2 separate regions of the Homo sapiens genome follow, and region 1 is linked to region 2. A link means that fine-mapping ties the variant in region 2 to the expression of a gene that starts in the linked region. Tissue or cell type: lung. Region 2 holds a variant in brackets; the other region holds the start of a gene. All regions are shown on one strand. Distances are from middle to middle.

What was found. PIP is the estimated chance that this variant, and not a neighbour inherited with it, causes the effect.
Region 1: CD82 starts here. The variant in region 2 is fine-mapped to the expression of CD82 in lung (TOPMed, PIP 0.93).

The regions. Positions count from the first base shown.
Region 1 is chr11:44,560,657-44,570,204 of GRCh38, reverse strand. CD82 (CD82 molecule) reads right to left here and starts at 4,542. Exons shown (of 10, transcript NM_002231.4): 1 at 4,469-4,542. RefSeq lists enhancers at 728-917, 3,454-3,523, 4,029-4,529, 7,369-7,868, 7,869-8,370 and 1 more and a silencer at 4,444-5,043.
Region 2 is chr11:44,614,117-44,624,584 of GRCh38, reverse strand. It overlaps CD82 (CD82 molecule), which reads right to left. Exons shown (of 10, transcript NM_002231.4): 7 at 9,212-9,313; 8 at 6,220-6,423; 9 at 5,862-5,945; 10 at 4,227-5,536. The coding sequence ends at 5,459. Among named protein-coding and RNA genes, the nearest start is that of CD82-AS1, 14 kb to the right of the region's middle. RefSeq lists an enhancer at 7,819-8,168. The variant T/C (reference allele first, on the strand shown) is at 5,045.

The DNA of each region.
Region 1 (9,548 bases), 54 kb after region 2:
AAGCTGAGCGTCACAGTGAGGAGACCCAGCCACCCCCAGGAAGAGCCAGAGAGCCCCACATAGCCAGACATGACTGGCGTCTTGGGGCACACACATATTGGAGAGGCACAGAGGCCCTGTGCAGAAGGAAGGTGTTCTGGGAGTGTCCCTGGGGGCCTGAGAAGGAGCCTGGCACCAGCCTTGAAAGACCAACCAGATACAGCAAACAACAATGGCTCTCCTTTATTGAGCATTTACTATGTGCTAGGTATAACAATACTAAGCATTTCATGTGCACTTTTTTGTCTTCTCCTCATGACCTATGAAGTCATGACCATTATTATCCCCATTTGCAGGTTCAAAAACTGAGGCTCAGAAAGAGTCACGTAGCCAGAAATTGGCAGGGCCGAGATCTCAACTCTAAAGTCCAGTGCTTTACCGCCATGCTGTACCATCATCTCCCTAATCTGTTAACAGGCAGAAAGAAGATAAAGGTGCTTCAGGTGGGGGAAACAAGGTAAAAATAGGGAGGTAGGATCAAGTGCTCTTTGAGGGGAGCTGCCCAGCTCCTCTGTGTTGGGGTTGTATTTGTGTGTGTGCGCATGCCTGAGTATGGGTGGGTGTTCACAGACATGCCCTACTTTGCAAAGGATAGATCCCAGGTCCCAGAACTCCCCGAGAGCCAAGGAAAGAATGGGGCATCAGCAAGTCAGGGAAGGAATCCCAGAGAGAAGGAACTTATCTAAGGTCACACAACATACACACAGCAGAGCAGCAGCCAACTCCAAGGACCAGAACACAGGTCTCTTTCCTCCATCAGCTGCCTGTCCATGTCAGCACAGTGAATCAGCTGCTGACAGGAAAACCACAGTGGAAGGGGAAGCCCGGGGGTGAGTCAGGAACCAGCCAGCCTCCGAGAGACACCAGCTGGGCCTGTTGCAGAGGCCCCGGGTCTGTGGTTGTCTGCCTCTTCTTAGGGCAGCATCAGGGGCGAGGGGAGCAACACATCCCACACCACTCACTCCATGTTTACCTCTGGGCTTCCCCTCCCAGCTCCTCAGACCCCGGCTTAGTGGAGGGGAAGCGGGTGGGTAGGGCAGTTCCTGCTGAGATTAAACGGGTCCTGTCCCACAGAGGGGCCCAGGCCAAACAGTCCAGGCTCTTCCCTCCCTTCCCACCTCTCACAGAGCCAGCTCCTGGCCGTTTGATGTTCTTGATTAAGTCATAACCGCCCCCTGTGAGCTTCCCATGGGGCAGAGGAAGTGGGTATAACGGTTTGGAGCAGAAGGCCAAGGCCAAGGTCAAGCCAGAATCAGGGGTGCCAGCTGGCCCCAGATGCTCCGAATCTGAAACAACACTCAGAACTTGGGGCTGCTCAGCCATGGGTTGAGGGAGGACTGTCTGGTCCTTAGGGGAACAGGTTTGGGTCCCCAGGGTGGAAGGGGATGGCCGGTGGGAGCTTCCAGGCTGTGGCTCTAAAGCGTGAGGCCTCAAGACAGAGGGGGCCGCCCCCACATAGCGGAAACTTCAGAGGAGCCCAGGGAAGCCAAAATCCTGCCCCAGTCCCCCTACTGTGGGAAACTTGTGCCCTGACTGCTCACCCACTGCCAGAGATAGCACATGGCTGACCTCTCACCCCTATCCTCCCTGGGCTGGGATGGGAGGGAGGGATCAGCAGGCACTTCTTCTAACCATCCCGCCCCCGACCCCCAAACTTACTGCTGGCTGGCACAGGCTCCCACCTTTCGGCCCAGATGCCTCCCCTTCATGGGCAAACCCCTCTGTAGCATTCATCACCCTCCCAGCAACCCCGCCACTCACCCAATCCAGCCACCTTCCTGAGACCCTGCTATGTACCAGACAGGATAGGGAGGAGAAAGAAGTGCAAATGTGCTGGAACAGTCCCCTCCCACCCCTCCAATGGTGCCTTTGCTCTCCCTGTGGCTGGTGTCTCTTCCTTCACTCCCAGTTGCAGACATCCCCAAAGCCACCCAGACCCCTTCTTCCCAGTCACTGCAGCCATTGGTTCATTATCCCTTGACCGCTGGATCCTCCACCCCAGCACATCTGGTACAGACTGACTTTCCTAAAGTGCTGCTCTGTTGTGTCACTCCTCTCCTCAGAAACCTTCAGTGGCTCCCACTTTCTGCAAATCAGATCCAAAGTTCTTATCCTGTCATTCAAGGCCCTCCGTAAGCTGATCCCACCTACTATTCCCACTGCATATCCCCACACGTTCCCAAACTTCAGCCAGAATGAGCAACCTAGAGGTTTCTCGAGAATTCTCAGGACAGGTTGACCTCCCTGCCTCTGCCTAGGCATTTTCCTCTCCTCAAGACACTATCTTCATTCTGGCTGCCGAAATCTTCCCAGTCTGTAAGGCCCTGAAGATCCCTCTAATCCTTTTTTCATTTATCTTCCATCAGAGTCCCTGGTATTCTTGTGTAAGCCCCTTCCCGGATGGTAAGCAACCTGAGGGTGCAGGCCTTATGTGGTCGCTTGTCATTCATCGAGCAGGAAGTGGGGGTGGTGGTGGGGAGGGCTTTCCATTAAGGCTCACTAGGTAGGCTCTGTTGAAATGAACGTCTCCTCCTCCCCACCTCAGGCACCACCTACCAGACCCTCTCCCTCCCCACCATACCAAACTCCAATTTATGCCACTTCAGTGCTTGAAGAGACTGTGGTCCCATGTTGATCCAAGCCAAACCAGGACCAGGAGCCCAGAGAGAAAGTCCTATTCAAGTCTCACCCCCTCCAGGAAGCCTCCTTACCCCCACCCCCTGCCCTGGCTTCTCAAGTGTCTCACTCTTCTGAACACCTCCCCCTGCCCTACATACACACACAGTCTCCTGCACACAGCGCAGCCGCCAGTCCGTCTCTGTCCCACAGCACTTTCCAGTTTGTTCCATACTGTACAGCTTATCTCCCAGAAGATGCAGGGAGCCAATATAATGCAGCACCTTCAGCGTCCTTCAGTGTCCAACCCTGCTTAGATATCGGGTGCCCACATTGCCCCTCGCCCCCATCCCAAGCCAAGTGTGCAATGGTATAGCTGGATTCCAGCCACCAGGGCAGAACAGACCCATGAAATCTCATCTGGTTATAAGCCCTGGGTGTGACTGATCCTCTCTACAGGGACATGGTAGGGATGGGGGAGCCCTCATTGTCAGCAACTCAGGCCTGGCTAGTTCACCTCTGTATCCTCTAGCTCTCTCTAGCATATAGTAGGTGCTCAGTAAACATTTTTAGACTTATTTAACTCAACACTTACCAACCTCAAGCAACATTACAGAAAACTCAGCCACTCTTTGTTCCAGATGACACAGTCCTCATCCCTCAAATAGAGTGATGTTGGTGGCAGGTGGCAATTTCTGGCTTTCACAAGGTCAGGAGGGGCTGTAGCCAACCCCATCTCTCCAAGAAAAAAAAAAGGCTCATTCCCCATAGGAAGCAAGCCCATCACCTGCCCACCCGCATCAAAGCAGCTGTCACAGAGGGAGGTCTCACTGGTTTCCTGGCACCTTGCTAAGTAGTGTATACACATTATTCTATTTAGTGCTTGCTCCTGCTATTGGATATTGTCATTATCCCCATTTTACAGGTGAGGAAACTGAAGTTTGGAGGGGGAATGGAATCCAAATCAGTTTGATCCCAAAGCCCAAGCCTTGACCACAGAACTATGCTGCCCCGCTACTGGGGCCCAGCACAGAGCACCCACCACCTCCAGGAACAGAACCCGTCAGCCAAGAAATTAACCCCGGGTATGCTTCAAGGGCCCCTGGGGCCCTGGGCTTGACCCTGGGCCCAAGGATTGGTGGGGTTTTCCCTTCTCTTCCCCACTCACCAGTGTAAGAACTGTTCCCCAGTTTCCAACCTCCTGCTCAGGCCAGCTCACCTGGAAAAGCCCCACTGAGTTTCCAACTTGAAGTCTTAGGGGGTCCGGCTCAGTTGAACTGTTAGAATTGGTGGGAAGCAGGTGAGGCGGGAAATGGAACCTCCCTGCTTTGGCCTCCTCTTCCCCAGGGTTGGTGGGTTCGAGCCCCAACCGAGGAAACAGTGCACTCTTTAAAGCAATTCGCTTCTCTCAGTCCCATTTTGCAGGGAGAGAAACTGCAGAGGGCAACGCGATGGGAACACCTGTGGCGACCTGCAGCCTGCTCTCACCTGCCAGCTCTCACCTTCCGGCGTTTTAAGTGAGAAAGGGCAACGGGAGCGTGGAATTCACCTGGTTCACTTCCTCCTGCTGGAACCCGGGAGGTCCAGAGCCAGGTAGAGGGACGGACCCAGGATCACGCAGCTGTGCACGGCCGAGTGTGAGAACTGGGGGTTCAGGACTGGTGGCTAAAGCTCCTTTTCACCCACCAGCTGCCCCGACCTGTCACTAGTTCCGAGGAAAGTTGTCCGAGCCGGACCGCAGAAGCGGGGGCTAAAACTAACTTTGCCTATGGTTGTCCGGCAGGCTACCCCGGCCCGCTGCCCCCTTGCTCACCTGCGGGTTCTGCTTTCTGCTCCGCGCTGCAGGCCCAGCGTCACCCGCTCGTGCCTCAGTCGGCGTCGGACTGCACAGCCCGGGGCTCAGTCACTCCTCGGCCCCCTCCCGGCTGCAGCCGGGGAACGCCGCGGACTCGGCAGGCCCCGCCCCCAGAAGACACGCCCCCTCCGCCGGCCCCGCCCCCGAGCCCTTTGGGAAGGCGGTGCGCTCCCGCCGGCCAGGCCCCGCCCACTATGGCCGTACCCCAACCAGCCTCGCCCCCGGGCCCAGCTGGAGCTGAGGCCCCGCCCCGCTACGGAGTCTCTCCTCTATCCCGGCAGCCCCGCCCCCAGGTTACACTGGGGATTAAGCCCGCCCCGCTCCAGCCCTGTCCACTCACGGCGCTGCCTAACGGTCCCGCCCAGCTCCCGCCTACCTCGTCCTCCCGGTCTCCTCCCGGGCCCTCCCAGCGCCCCCGCCTCCTTCACTTTCTCCTTCGAGCCCACCCCATCCCCCGGCCCTAGTAGGGTGAGGCCACGCCCCTCCCCGCACCAGCCTGGGCTCAGCGCCTTCCTAATCCTGCCCTGCCCTGCCCCTCTCATCTCGGGCGGGTAGCCCTGGGGCCCCCACGCTGGCATTCCAGGGCGGGTGTATCCGGGTGCCGCCGGGGAACGGCGTGGGAGCGGTTTGTGTCCTAAGTCGGGGCCTCTATCAGGAGGCGGCCTGGGCCCAGGAACTTTTTGAAAATACTGACTACCATTGATTGAATCCTTGCCAGGGGCCAGGCTCTATGCCAAGCGCTGAATACAGTTCTAGCCCTTGAATTCCCACAACTCATGGGTACTCTCGTTGCGCCTATTTTACTAATGCGCAGTTTAAGGCTCAGAGAAGGGAAGTCGAGGGCTCTGAATCTCATGGAGGCGGGCGTGAGCGGGATCCAGCCTCAGGTCCTGAGTCACAGGCTTGAGCTGCCCCAGCTTGCCTGGACTGGCCCCTGGGGAAGTAGCCCAGAACAACCAGTGCTGGGGCAGTGCCCAGCAGCTGCCTGAGGTGAGGGAGGAGGTGTGGGTTGATGAGAATAGTGGCAGGAGGGGCTGTGGGCCTAAGCCCTCAAAGCTGGCTTTCTCCCTGAAGAAAAAGTGGCCCAAAATTGAGGTGGGCTGCAAGAGCTCTCTAGGTGGCTGCGGTGCCCACCCTGCGTCCCAGCCCTCTGCCCTCCCAGGCTCCAGAGGACTAGCCTCAGGCAGATTACCTGGTTAATGACCAGGGGCATTCACCTGTGCAGCTGACAAAGCTCTTTCACTTCCATTATCACAATGTCCTCTCACAACACACCGTTGTGGGAGGGTATGATTATGAGCGCTTTGTACGAGTGGAGTAAGGGCGGGAGCTGGATCCCAGCCCAGCACTGTAGTTCTCACAGCGTGGTCCTTGAACCAGGAGCAACATCATCTGGGAACTTGTTAGGAGTGCGTATTTTGAAGCCCCATCCCAACTTACTGAATGGAAAACTGTGGGACAATTGGTTTTAATAAGGCCTCCAGGTGATTCTGAATCACATTCAAGCATGAACCACTGTTGAGCAAACTGTAAAGAAGTCAGGGTGGTCTGAGAATCACACAGACCTAGGTAGCTTCCTGGTTGCGTTTTAAACCCAGGACAAGGCAAGATACTTAACCTCTGGGATGAGCCCTTAAACAGGGAATAATAATAAAATGAGCCATAACAATCATACCGATCTTGATGGTAGCTGTTGAAGATTACATGTGACAGCATTCATAAAGTATTTGGCCCACCGCTTGAATGCCGTACATGCTCAGAAAATGTTCTCTTTTCAGCAAAAAGTCTCCTTCATAGCATTCCCACACCAAGTCAGAAAAGTGAGGCTGGAGAATCCTTTAAACCCAGCAGTGTGTCATACCCGCAGAGAGACACCCTCTATCCTGCAAGTGGTTAAGATCCTAACAAGCTCCTAGATGATGTGGATGCTGGTCCGGGGACCACACTTTGAGAACCACTGTGCCATTCTGTCTTGGGCTGGGTTTCAGATCCCTACCCTACCCAGCCCATGCAAAATGGGCATAAAATTCCTCCTATTCCACCCTACTCCACACCCCGCTCCCTCCGAGCTGGGGGTGTTTGTGATGGTGTATGGCAGATGCTCCTGACAGCAATAACTTGACTTAAGCATACCCTGAGAATGGTCCTGTATGGCAGATGCACCCCAATGTGTGTTTGGAGTTTTGAGCTAAGGAATCCGGGAATGACCAACCTGGAGATTCATTCCTTATCTGTGAGGAACATTTGAACCCCGGCCCATCCTGTGGAATGCAGGGTGTACAGGGGTTCAAAGCTCTTTGTTTGGGGCCAAATGAAGGTTATCAGGTGGGGGTTGTTAGGGGGAGGGTGCTAAGTGAGAGTGATGTATAAACTGCATGCTTTTTGTAAGCGGTTGTGGCTCTCCTGCCCAGCCTGCCATGGGACTGTACAGTTCTCCTGTCCAGCCCACTGCCACCGGCCGTCCCTGTGTGTAAGTTTCCCAATAAAACCCCATGTCCCAGTTGCTGGCTCTGGTCTCTCCTTCAGCCTCTTGAACCTAGTACCATCCCTACTGAAGTTAATAGGGCTCCAGCAGACAGATGGGAACTGGCCATTGGCAAAACAGCTGGATCCCCTCACTGTCCCCTCCCCCCATGAAGACATTCTCTCATATTAGTCCCATCTGCTATCCCTTGCTGCCCTGCCACTCCTGATTAGAGATAGAGGCAGCTGTGGTGACATTGAGAGCAGTCTTCAGGCAGCTTCTAGAATCTCTGCCATACTCCCTGTCATTGTCTGAGTCCCACAGAAGAGTGTCTCCCTGTAGGAGTGCAGGGCCTGGGCACTGGTCCTGTTATGCTGACCTGCCCGAACATGGAGAGCCCAAGTTAAGAGTGCAAATCAAGGACCAGATACCTTGTATCTAAACATTTAACTGACTGTGAAATAAAATGTGTATTCTCCTGCCTTGACAAATGTTCTTTCTAATGACCAGGAAGACCATGTTCAAATTTAGCATTCTTGGACTCTTTAGAATTTTATGCAAGAACATGGCAGTGCGGGAGGATAGCCTGGCCCTAGCCCTCAGCCCACCCACTCCACTTCTCTTCACACTCCATCTCTGTCTTGTGTCACAAGTGGCCTAGGACTCAGGCATGTGGATACTCCAGCCCACACACCCAAACTTTGCCCACACGCCTTGCCTACAGCCACCTCTTCGTCACCTCTCTATGAATGCACATTCCAGGGACAGGATGTACCCTCAGGAGGATGGACCTGGGCAGGCAGCTTTGTAAACCTTAAAACTGGCTGGGGGGCTGAGCACAGTGGCTCACACCTGAAATCCCAGCCCTTTGGGAGGCTGAGGCAGGAGGATTAAAGAGCTCAGGGGCTCAAGACCAGCCTGGGCAACAGGATGAAACCCTGTCTCTACAAAAACTACAAAAATTAGCTGGGTGTGGTGGCGTGTGCCTGTGGTCCCAGCTACTCGGGAGGCTGAGGTGGGAGGATCGCTTGAGCCAGGGAGGCGGAGGTTGCGGTAAGCTGAGATTGCACCACTGCACTCCAGCTGGGCAACAGAGCAAGACCCTGTCTCAAAAAACAAAACAAAACAAAACAAAACAAAACAAAACAAAACAAAAAAACTGGCTTGGGCTGGATAGGCAGTCTAGGTTTTTAAACACCCAAAGCATGATCAAGGTCAGGTGTGGGCTCTGGGTGGCCACAGGTGCCCTCTTGTCCAGGTCTATGGTGACATTGCCATTTGGCCTTGTCTCCCCAGCTTCTAGCACATGCCTGGAAGCTTAAGGGACAGTTGTTGAGTAGATGTGCATCTGAGTCTAACTTAGTCCATTTTCTGTTGCTATAACACAATACCATAGGCTGGGTAATCGATAAAAGAATTTTATTTTGTATAGTTCTGCAGCCTGGGAATTCCAAGGTTGAGAGGCTACATCTGGTGAAAGCCTTCTTACTGACTCATCACATGGTGAGAGGGCAAGGGCATGCCACCGCAGGTCTCTCTTCATCCTATTATAAAGCTACCAGTCCTCATCATGAGGGCCCCATCCTGATGACCTTATCTAATCCTCCCAAAGGCCCTACCCCCAAATACCATCAACATATGAATTTGGGGATTCAGTTTCCAATACATTCAAACCATAGCAGAGTCATTCACTGAAATATCACATTGGGTTGGCTCCCTCAGCATTGTCCCTATCCCCTCTCTTCCAGCAGAAGGCAAGCTTTGTCATGACTCACCTTGGGCATTTTGCCAGGCAGAAAGCGCAGACACTTCTAGTGAGACTCTACCTCTAGTCCATTCTAGAGGTGGAGCCAGGAGTTCTGGAGGTGGGAAAAGGGGTGAGAAGAACCACCCTAGAAAGCCTTGAGAGAAGATATCCATGGCCAACTTGGAGATGGGGAAGACGGTGGTGTGGCAAGACCTCAGAGAGGTATGGCTATAGGATTGCCAGGCTCTCAGAAGATTCCCCCACCCCAAAGGTGGAAGATGAACAGCTGAGCAGGAGACTTCAAAGAACTTGTAGGCAAGAACATGGGGGCCAGTTCCCTGTTAGTGTCTGGGCCTAGGTTAAGGCCCCAAGACTTTTGCACATCTCTGGTGGAGGAAGGTAAAGAGAATGAGTGCGGGTATCTGTTTCCTACTGTTATGTAACAAACCATCCCACTCATTTATTTTGCCCATAAATCTGCAGTTTGGGGTGGGCTCAGCAGCAACGGCTTATCTCTGCTCTACGCAATGTCAGGTGGTTCAATTGGAGGTTGGGGATCCATTTTCAAGATGGTGTACTCACACACCTAGCAAGTTGGCACTTGCTGCCAGCTGGGAGGTCAGCCAGAGCTGTGGAGGCCTTTGGTCCTCTCCATGAGGCTGCTCCACAGGTTGCTTGAGCTTCTTCATAATTTGGCTGCCGGTTTTGAAGAACAAAGACTCACTTAGAAGTGCATGGCATTTTGTGACCTAGCCTTAGAAGTCATATAGGATCACTTCCTTTGCATCCTATTAGTAGAAGCAGTCACCAAGGCCCTGGTTCAAGAG
Region 2 (10,468 bases):
TCTCTCCTTCCATTTTACCAGACCCCCACTGACCCACCAAGTGGGTTCCTCGACAGCTTCCCCATGGAAAGAACTCAGACACCACCCCAAGCGCCTGAGTCCTCTATGAACCAGGACCAAGAGGATTGGGTGCTGGGATCACAGGGCCCCTGTCACCCTGGAAGCCCCAAGCTGGGCTCACCCAGGTGTGTGATGCAAGGGCAGAGGATGGACCCCTCCACTCCTATCAGCTGCCACTAACATCCCTTCCCGCCCACTCAGTCCTCCAAGAGGCTGCTGGAGACTCTCCAGCTCTCTCCTTCCACTCCCCACCTCCACACAGCCCCTCTGCACTCCCAGCTGTTCTGGCTGGCCGCCCCTCTGCCCCCAGCATCCTGCAGGAAGCCCACTCCTATCCCAGGGGCTACTGCTTAAAGCATCTGAGGTCACTTGGGGAGAGGCACTTGGCTCTGGGCCTGACATTCCCCTTGCTCAGAAGGCAGGTGCTGGGGAAATGATGTCAGATGGGACAGCTGGGGGCCGGGGTGCTCACAGCTCAGATGTCCTCTAATGGCCCTCCTACCTGCTCACCTTCCCACTAGGCAAGAGGCTGAGTACAGGTCTTACCTGCCCCAGCCCCAGCCCCTTGGGCCAATCAGCCATCCCTGCCCCGGAGGCACCAAGGCCCAAAGTCCTCCCGTGGGCCTCATTCCTACTCAGGGAAGGTATCCCCCAGAGGATGGGAAACCTCCCCTTGAAGCTGGGGCCAGTCCTGGAATGGGCTGCTTGGGGAATGAGCTCACTGTGTACGTGACCGCATTTGGCTCCCACAACAGCACTGGGAGTGAGGAATGAGAGTCCCCATTTTCCCGATAAGACTAAGAGAGGTGAAGTTGCACAGCCTGTCACGTCCAGTGGCAGCTGCTCTGATTCTATTTGATTTCAGTTGGGAAGGGGATTGCCAGGGCAATGGCTGATTCCTGCACTGTGGCAGGGGCGATGAGCACTTCCTCCTACTTTCCTGTTTGTTCGACGCGCTGTTCATTCTACTTCCTTCCACAGGAAGGGGCCTTGGATGGGCCCCAGGGATCCCACAGCAGCACTTGGCTCAGACTGTGCTGTCAGCAGTCGGCAGTGTGTGCTGGTACGTACCTGTGTACGTGTGGCAGGGTGTGCTGTGTGCATGCGTGTGCTGTGTGTGCACGTGTGTCCTGGTGCATCAGTTGTGTGCAAGAGTCTCTACACTCATCAGAATGCAGGTGCCATGTGGGCAGGGGGTTTGTGTGTGTTCACTGCTGTGTTCCTAAGATCCTAGAACTGTGCTTCACAAATAGTCTGTGCCATTAAGTATTCATGGGATGAATGAATGAATAAATGAATAAACCTTAGCCTACAGCCTCTAAAGACCCCAGAGAACAGCCAGACATTTGCCCCGAGGCAGCGTAGCAACCTGGGTCTCTGTCCTTCTGCAGGGGAGAAAGGCGATGGGAGCGCTGGCCCAGGAGATGCCTGTTGGCTAGATGCTCCAGCGTCACCAGTGTGCCCCTCCACCCGGCTGCTCTCAGCCTGGGGGACCTGCTCACCTGGAAGATCATCTGGGGCAGAGGCTGGAGGCAGCTCTGCTAGGAGACAGGATGGTGATCAGCGGCAGAGGGGGCTCTGCAGTGTAGGCCCGGGAAGGCCAGGCAGGAAGACACTTGGCTTTCCCTGTTCACTACGGGCCACCCATGGCTTAGTCTCAGGGAAGAAGAGCTAGGGTTCCTCCCAGCTGGGAATGGACTGAGCCCTCAGGGGCCTTCAGGGCCTCGAGTGTGTGCGTGTGAGAGAGTGCATGCATGTATGTGCACATGTATCAGGCTGCCATTCACCAGTACTCACCCAGCCAGCCATACCAGTTATTATGAATAAAATGGAGAAATATTTCCACACCAGTTGAAAATTCCCCCCCAGCTCAATCTCTCAGAGCTCCTGCACCTCCCGCCAATCCATACGTAAGGATCCCATTCCAGCTCAGGCCTGACTTCCATACCTATTGGTCAGTGGCCATGCCAATCAGTGCCCCCCAAAGTCCAGCTCCCTGAACACATCCTAGGCACTGTCTCTAACCTCCCACGGGAGCCCAAAGAGCAACCCTTTGCTCCAGCCATTCTTCCTGGCTGCCCCAGGGAGCTGTGGGTGGGCACTGCCAAGGAGCACCCTTGTACTCTCCTCCACATGGTACCCATGTGCCAGTCCTTTGGGCCTGTCAGGGCCCTTGGCAGGAGAGATGGCAGCCCACAGAGGGCCCAGGGAGGGCAGCTGGAAGGTGTGGAAGCCCCAGATGGGCATGGGACAGATTAGTGGCTGCAGGGACGATTCTGAGTGTTAGACATGGGTCTATGTTCCCTCCCTCCCAAAACCTCACAGGCTGGGAGTAAGTGGGTTGCTGAAACTGGGTGCTCCCCAGGAGGTTGAAATGAGGAACCCAGCAGGCTCAGAGCTCACAGTGACCAGATTTCACAAAAGCGAGGGTCAGAGCCTCACACTACACACGTCCTGGGGCTGTTCTGGGAAATCTGGAAGGGCAGGAGCCAGTGGAGCCAGGAGGATGGTCTTTGAAGTCAGATACGTGGGGTTCAAATCCTGGCTCTGGCCCCTTCCAGCTGTGAGCTCTGGGCAGGATGGACGTGTCAGAGGAAGCAGCCCACCCCTTCGCTAACTTCTGACGTTTTCTCAGTCCTCTATTTTGCAAACAGCTTTGAGCCCACCCTCAGCCTGCCAGGCCCCGTGTCGCACAGGAAGATGGAGATGCAGCTGGACTCAAACTCAGGTCCCCTTGCTCCCAGTGAGAAAGCATTTATGAAAAGACACCCAACAGCTCTCTGCTACCCTTCCTGAGGGTGGAAGCTGTGGGGGGCCAGGGAAGTCAGGCCAGGTGGAACCATCGACATTTTCCTCTCCTGCCCCCATCCCAGAGGGAGGCGACCAAGGCCACAGAGGGACCCACAGCCGACCCCACCGCTGACACCTCCTCAGCTGCCACATTCGCTGAGAGGTCATCACGTGGCTTGGGACAGACATTACTCCAGGTCTGAAAATCTTCCGGAATCAACGCAAAGGGGTGCAAATAGGCAGATTCCTTGTCCCCACCCTAGATCTGCAGCGCCAGAATCCTTGAGCCTTGGAATCTGCATTTTCACAAGTGCTTCCACTGGAGTGGGACGCTGGCAGGCCCCGCGTTGGCGAAACTGGGAGTAACCACGGAACCTTTGGGCTCTGCCGGGCTCCTAGGCTGAGGCTGCAGCGCCGCCTGGTGGTCCCTGCTGAAACACCACTCTAGCCGCCGCCCCGCCTGGCCCCACTGCAGGGAGGCAAGAGTTCCCCTCCCCACTGGCTCCAGAAATGAGAGAAGGTGGGGCAAGTGCCCTCTGGACTTCATGACGCCGGGCAAGGGGCATGCTGGGGCTCAGTCGTCAGAGCCGTGCACAAGTAAGAGCAAGCTTCTTTTTCTTTTTCTCTCTCTCTCTCTGTCGTTTTCTTTTTCTTCCTTTCTTCTTTTTTGACAGATTCTCGCTCTGTTGCCCAGGCTGAAGTGCAGTGGCACAATCTTGGCTCACTGCAACCTCCATCCCCCGGGTTCAAGCAATTCTCCTTTCTCAGCCTCCTGAGTAGCTGGCATTACAGGCGTGCACCACCACACTCGGCTAATTTCTGTATTTTTTGGAGAGATGGGGTTTCACCATGTTGGCCAGGTTGGACTCGAACTCCTGACCTCAAGTGATCCACCTGCCTCAGCCTCCCAAAGTCTCACATTTCATCTTAAAAAGTCCCCTGAATTCTGCACATCTTACTCCATCACATTTCTTTAGTATGAAAATGTTTCCTTCCACAAATCTTTGCAGAAACGGATGCTCTAGAAAGCGATGCCAAGTTTATCCTGTGGCTTCCCTGTCCCCCATCACCAGCCCACTTTTGTGCAGCTTCTGGGGGCACCCATACCCTAGTTTCAGAAGCAGGAATTGAGAGGTACAATCTATACCTCTCTTAGCACCAAATCAAACTCCAGGCACCCCGGCATGCAGGCAGGCCCATCAGAGCCTGGCCCATCACGGTCCTAAGGTTCAGGCTGCAGAAGCAGATGCCTGCGGGGAGGGCAGAGCAGTGAGGGGTCCAGCAGTCTCCAGCAGACCCAGCCACTCTGCTCACACCCTCTGCCCTGGGTCCTCCCCTGCCCCAGGAAGCAGCATCCCTACCATTCCAGACTAGACTGTTATAAATCCTCTTTAATAGTCTTAGAATCTTGAGTGTGTTTTACAGAATGGTGCACACAAAGCCCCCTCCCCTCTCCCCCTACAAGGCACAGCCTCACCCACCCCACTCCCCAGGGGCCAGAGGACCGCTTGCCAAGAAAGGCCAGCCCACCTTCTCCCAGGAGAAGCCATCCTCCTCCTCCCCGCCCCTGGCCAGCTCCGGACCCTGGAGAATACAGGACCAGCTCTGTGCCATGCCCCCAAGGACTCACCTGTCCCTAAGCAGCTCAGGGCCAAGCCAGATCCCCTTACCCAGGCAGACCCCCTCCAGCCCAGCTCCCCTAGGCCGTGTCCCTAGGGCATGGCCTAGGCTAATCTGAGCTGTCTAGATGGACCTGCATCAGGCCTGGGGAAGGGGTGCCACCCCTTAATATCAGGTAAAACCCACCCTCTCCCCTCTCCCACTGCCTTCAATATAATTGTGAAAAATAAAGATATAAATGTCATAGTGGGAAATAAGTTGACCCACCCAGTAGGCAGTCTCCTGACAGCCCAGAGTGCCTTATCTAACGCCCTTCCCTCCCCAATTTTTTTTTTTTTTTTTTTTTTTTTTGAGACGGAGTCTCTTTCTGTCCCCCAGGCTGGAGTGCAGTAGCACGATCTCAGCTCACTGCAACCTCCGCTCCCGGGTTCACACCATTCTCCTGCCTCAGCCTCCCAAGTAGCTGGGACTACAGGTGCCCGCCACCGCGCCCGGCTAAATTTTTTTTGTATTTTTAGTAGAGACGGGGTTTCACCATGTTAGCCAGGATGGTCTCGATCTCCTGACCTCGTGA[T/C]CCACCCGCCTCGGCCTCCCAAAGTGCTGGGATTACAGGCGTGAGCCACCGCGCCCGGCCCCCTCCTCCCCAATTTTTCATACAGTTGCCCCTATACAATATACACACCCTTGAGGGCAGGTAGAAGTCCAGCCCACCTGCGCCAGGGACGCTGTGGGGAGCATTTTTCTCTGAGTTGCTAAGAGAACCCTGATGGGCGGTGAGCAGAGGAACCACAGAACAGCCAGGGCTCAAGGCTGGCAGCGGATAGGCCAGGAGAGATCGCTAGGCCCCAGAAAGCCCCCTACTTTCAGTCAGGATGGGCAAGAGGGTCTTCGCAGTGAAGTGGGAGGCAGGCCTGGAGGAGGGAGCCAGGGAGACCCCTGGGAGCCCTGAGGTTGGGGGCCAGGCAGGGAGATGGGGATAGCAGCTGCCTCAGTACTTGGGGACCTTGCTGTAGTCTTCGGAATGGACGTGCCGGCACAAGCAGATGGACAGGACCATCCCCAGGAGCTGTGGGGAGAGGCGGAGAGTCAGAGGGAGGCTGGGTGTCCCGGCCTCAGACGCCCCAGCCTCACCATCCAGGTTTACATGGGGATTAAGTGGATCCTCAACTTGAGCCTCACAACCACCCTGTGATGCAGGCAGCAGAGGGAGGCCCAGAGCGGGGCAGTGCCTTGTCTGAGGTCACACAGCCAGACAGTGCTCAGACCAGAGGGCCTCTGGAAGCTGATGGGGTGCTGGCCCCCTTGGCCACCACCTCCCCAAGGAGATCAGCAGAACAGAGACAACCCAGGAGGACCTGGGATGGAGAAGGGATGGGGGAGGGGGCTCAGACCTCGATGATGGCCACACCCACGCCCACGCCGAGGATGATGCCCAGGTTCTCCTGCAGCCACGCCTGCACCTTCTCCATGCAGCCCTGCAAGGGCAGAATGCGGTCACATCACCCCGCTCTGCACCATCCCACCCCGCCATGCAGAACCACCGAGAGCCCCCCAGTCCCAGCCCGGAAGCCCCTACAGAGGGCTCTGCCTGTTCCTTGAATAAATACATTAACAAAGAAGTAGATGAAGGTACAAATGACAGATGAATTAAGGGAAGGAACTAAATGCAGGAAGGAATTGCTGAGCAGTAGCCCAGATGGCCCCCAACGCCCTCGGAGCCCCGCCCCCGATCCGCAGCCCCCCGCACACCTCCTGGTACACAGGCCAGTCCTCAGGGTGGTTGCCACTCTGGGTCCTGTTGCCGGGGGCCTCGCAGAAGCCCTTCCTCACAGAAAGGCTGTTGTCCTCTTCCCCCTTGACTTCGCAGGAACAGGGGTAGGTGACCTCAGGGCGATTCATGAGCTCAGCGTTGTCTGTCCAGTTGTAGAAGCTGACCCAGCCGCAGCACTTCACCTGGGCAAGGCAGGGGACAGACTGCTTGTGCTCACGGCTCACCCTAGGCAGGCTGCCCTCCTGGCAGAGGGAGGACCTCCCCAGGACAGAGACTGAGATATGCCACTTCCAGGCCCCTGGTCCCAGCCGAACCATCATAAACTACAAGTACAGCAGAAAAATCAAAACCAGGACCAGCAAAAATACAAAGCAGAGTAGGAAGGAAGTTCAAGTTGAAGGAGCGCAGGTGTGCAGGGCACAAGGAGAATGGACGGCAGACAGTTCACAGTGCAGGGTTTAAAGTCAGGCTACTGGGTTACAATCCCAGCCCTGCCGCCTACCAGCTGAGCAACCTCCATCAAGGAACTAGCCTCAGTTTCCTCATCTGTAAATGGGGATAATTAAAATCCCCAACTCACAGGGCTATCACAAGGACTAAATGGGATGAGGCAGGCAAAGTACCAAGCATAGGTGTGGGGAGCACAATAAGCTTAGGAAAGGCCGTTCAACTTTAGTGCAGGAGTTGAGATTTGCCTCTGAGCTTCCTGGTGAAAAGGAAAAAAAGTGAAAAGTGAAAAAGGAGACGGGGTCAATTCCGCCTTTTTTTTTTTTTTTTTTTTTTCTGAGACAGAGTCTTGCTCAGTCACCCAGGCTGGAGTGCAGCAGCGTGATCTTGGCTCACTGCAACCTCCACCTCCAGGGTTCAAACGATTCTCCTGCTTCAGCCTCCTGAGTAGCTGGGATTACAGGCACTCGCCATCACGCCCGGCTAATGTTTGTATTTTTAGTAGAGACGGGGTTTCACCATGTTGGCCAGGCTGGTCTTGACCTCCTGACCTCAAGTGATCCGCCCGCCTCGGCCTCCCAAAGTGCTGGGATTACAGGTGTGAGCCACCTTGGCTAGCTGGTCAATTCTGCCATTTTAAAGGAGAAAATGCTCTAGTTCTAGAGAGAAGAAAGCCTTTCCGGGCTCTGTGTGCTAAAGGAGGTCTCTGTGTGTGAATCCCCGCAATGCTGGGGGTTCCTGGGAGGATTCAATGGGATAGCCACGGTCACAGCAGGGGTCAGTTCCTGGACCGCTTCCTTCCTAGCTCCGAGGGGTGTCGCCTGACCAGTAGCCAGTGGCCAGCAGGGGGCGTGCCAGGCACACTCAGAAATGCTCAGCTCCAGGCAGTTTCTAATCCAGGTTTACAGGTGCTTGTTCCAGCAGCCGGGCTGCCTCCTCTCTCCAAGAAAAGGCTGGCACCTCTGAGGGGTGCACAGGTCTGCAAGGCTGGGGGCACCCACAGGCCATCCTACACCAGAGCAAAATGAGGCAGGTCTCCTTGGCCCGTCTACGACAGAGCCTCCTTCCAAGCAACCCCTTGGCCTGACTCCGGCTGTACCTGGTCCCCAGCAGCACACGCCACCTCCGCCTGTGTCTCCATGGATGTGCATGGTGACTAAAACATCACCACCAACATACCACATAATAAATGCTGCCTAAGTGCTTCAGGCTTTAACAATGTATCTCACACGGCATGGGTCAGTAGCCCCATTGTATAGATGAGGAAGCAGGCTCAGCAAAGGTCTAGCGGCTGTGGCAGTGTTAGCACTCCAGGCCTTGGGAGTCTGACTTACCACCGGCCTAAGCAGCATCTGACAGCATCAGAATCATCTAGAACCAGCCAATGACTTTCCAGGGTAGGATGCTTACCACCTCCCAAGGGACCCACTTCTCCTCCCAGGTCCCTTGTCAGGTGGCACTGGTTTATGTCACTGGTGACATCCAGACTTTGCTAAAATTAGCAAAGTCTCAGCAATTGTGGGTCAAACTACATATGCGACCAAAACATTTCCTTGTGTGCACCAAGCCTTCCAGCTGCCACAACCCCCACACCTGATCTCCTCGGTCAGGGCCAGAAAACATCGCTCTCCCCTTCCTCCACTGAGAAAATGGCCATGTCCATGTCACCTAGATGGAGTGTCCTCTCTGCAAACTCTCCTGGTGCCGCTGAGTCAGGCTTTCTCCTGCTGCCCATGCCCTTTGTACTCCACATCCCTCCCCTGAGGTGTCAACAGGCCCTAAGTGACCACTGTGTCCTGCGCCCTCACAGGATTGCAGATCAGAGATGTCAGGTCCCAGCCAAGGGCACATGCAGCATCCGGGACCACAAGAAAGGAGAGCCAGGTGGTCATTGGATCACTATTGAGACAGGCTGGGAACCTGGTCAGTCTATCTGTTGGTCAGTCGGTCAGTCCGTCCGTCCATCTGTCCACCCATCCATCCATCCATCTCTCTCACTTTAATGGAGGTATAATACACATGAACTAATGGGCACACATTCAGCTTGGTGCATTTTTACGTATGTGCACATACTGGCGAAACCAGTATCAAGATTTGGCTAAAATACTCCTTTTGCCCTAGAAGGCTCCCCAACACCTCCCCAGCTAGTGCCCTTCCCCAGAGGCAGCCTTCACTGGGACTTCTCAGCATATCAGCCTTGGCTCCCAGTTTCCTAAAACCCAGAGTGGAGCTCCCAACGCTCCCCAGTGTAGCTTGAGATAAGAGGGCTGACAACTGCCCCCATGCTCTCTGGCCACAAATGGGAGCACAGAGCTGTGAAGCTGCCTCTGAGTCTCTGGGCCCCCTGAGCAGGGAGTTGTGGTGCTAACTGGGGTGCCCTGCCCCCATAGAAGCACACTCTCCTACAAACTGTCAGGCACACACGAGCACTGCAGATGCCAGTCCCAGACATGTGGGTGCACAGAGCCCCAAATGCAGGGACACCCAGGCCAGAGAGCCTCCTGCAGCCCCGCCCCACCTCACCTGAGCCTGCACGTAGTCCCAGGCATCCTGCAGGCTGTCCTCGCGACTGCTGTTGTAGTCTCGAATGAGCTCAGTCACGATGCCGCCCATCTCCTGCTTCAGCTGCAGGGGGGAGGACAAAGGTCAGGGTCAGATTTCCTGAAACCCGTGCCCACCTGTGGTCACCCCTACTTAAACTGCCTCCCCCCGTTCCCCTCAGCAACCCTGGGACACGCTCATGGCTCCAGCCACTTTCCTGGCGCTCCCAGGGTGCCCGATGCAGGCAGTGCCAACCACTCCTGCCCCACTATCTCTTCTGCGCTTGGCAGCAGCCTGGCCCTGTAAACATCAATATTCTCATGTCACTGCTGAAAACCCCGTAGGGGCCTCCCACCTCCAGGGCAGTTCCCACCGTCATTGTCCCCATAACAGCCTAGGAGGTCCTACACCACTTGTCTGCCTCCCCAGGCCTTCTGTCCTCTGTTCTTCCTCCCTCTGCTTCAACTGACTAGATTTCTGTGCTGTCTTTGTGCCAGGCACACTCCTGCCTTGGGGCCTTTGCACCTGCTGTTCCCACCGCCTGGAATGCTCTTCCCCTAGACATTAACATGGCTCACCCTCTGCTTCCTTCAGGGCTCTGCTCCAATGTCACCTCCTCAGAAAGGCCTTACCAGACCACTCTACAAAATATCAGCCCTTCCCCATCCCCTCTCCCCCAACCAATCAACCACCCCTCCCCGGCCTCCCTTATCCCACAAGGGAAAGCATGCTGTATTTCTCTTTAGAGCACTGACGTTACATGCTTGTTGGTTTTCAGGGCTTATCATCTCTCTCCACTAGCACATCAGCTCCGTGGGGGCAGGGACCACATCTGGCACGCTCACTACAGGGTCCCCCGTGGCTAGCGCCAAGCCTGGCACAGAATAGTTGTGTGGGGTACGTGAATGCTGAATGCACACCTAACCACCATGGTCTGCCAGGCACCAGAGCCAGACCCATGCAACTTCTTGGTGAATCCTTACACCTCCCACAGGGCAGCTTCAGGGAGAAGGAGGGACAGGGAGGAAAGCCCAGCTCAGTTTCCTTCTTCCAAGGACCAGAGTGCAGCCTCTCCAAACAGGGCCCCCAAGACAGCAGGGTAGATGCCTGGAGGGGGCCCCAAGACTGAGGGACCTGGAACTTCGGTATCAACTATATGGTCAAAAGATCCTCCCTCTATGTAGTCATGGTGGTGGGTGCCCGTAATCCCAGCTACTCAGGAGGCTGAGGCAGGAGAAT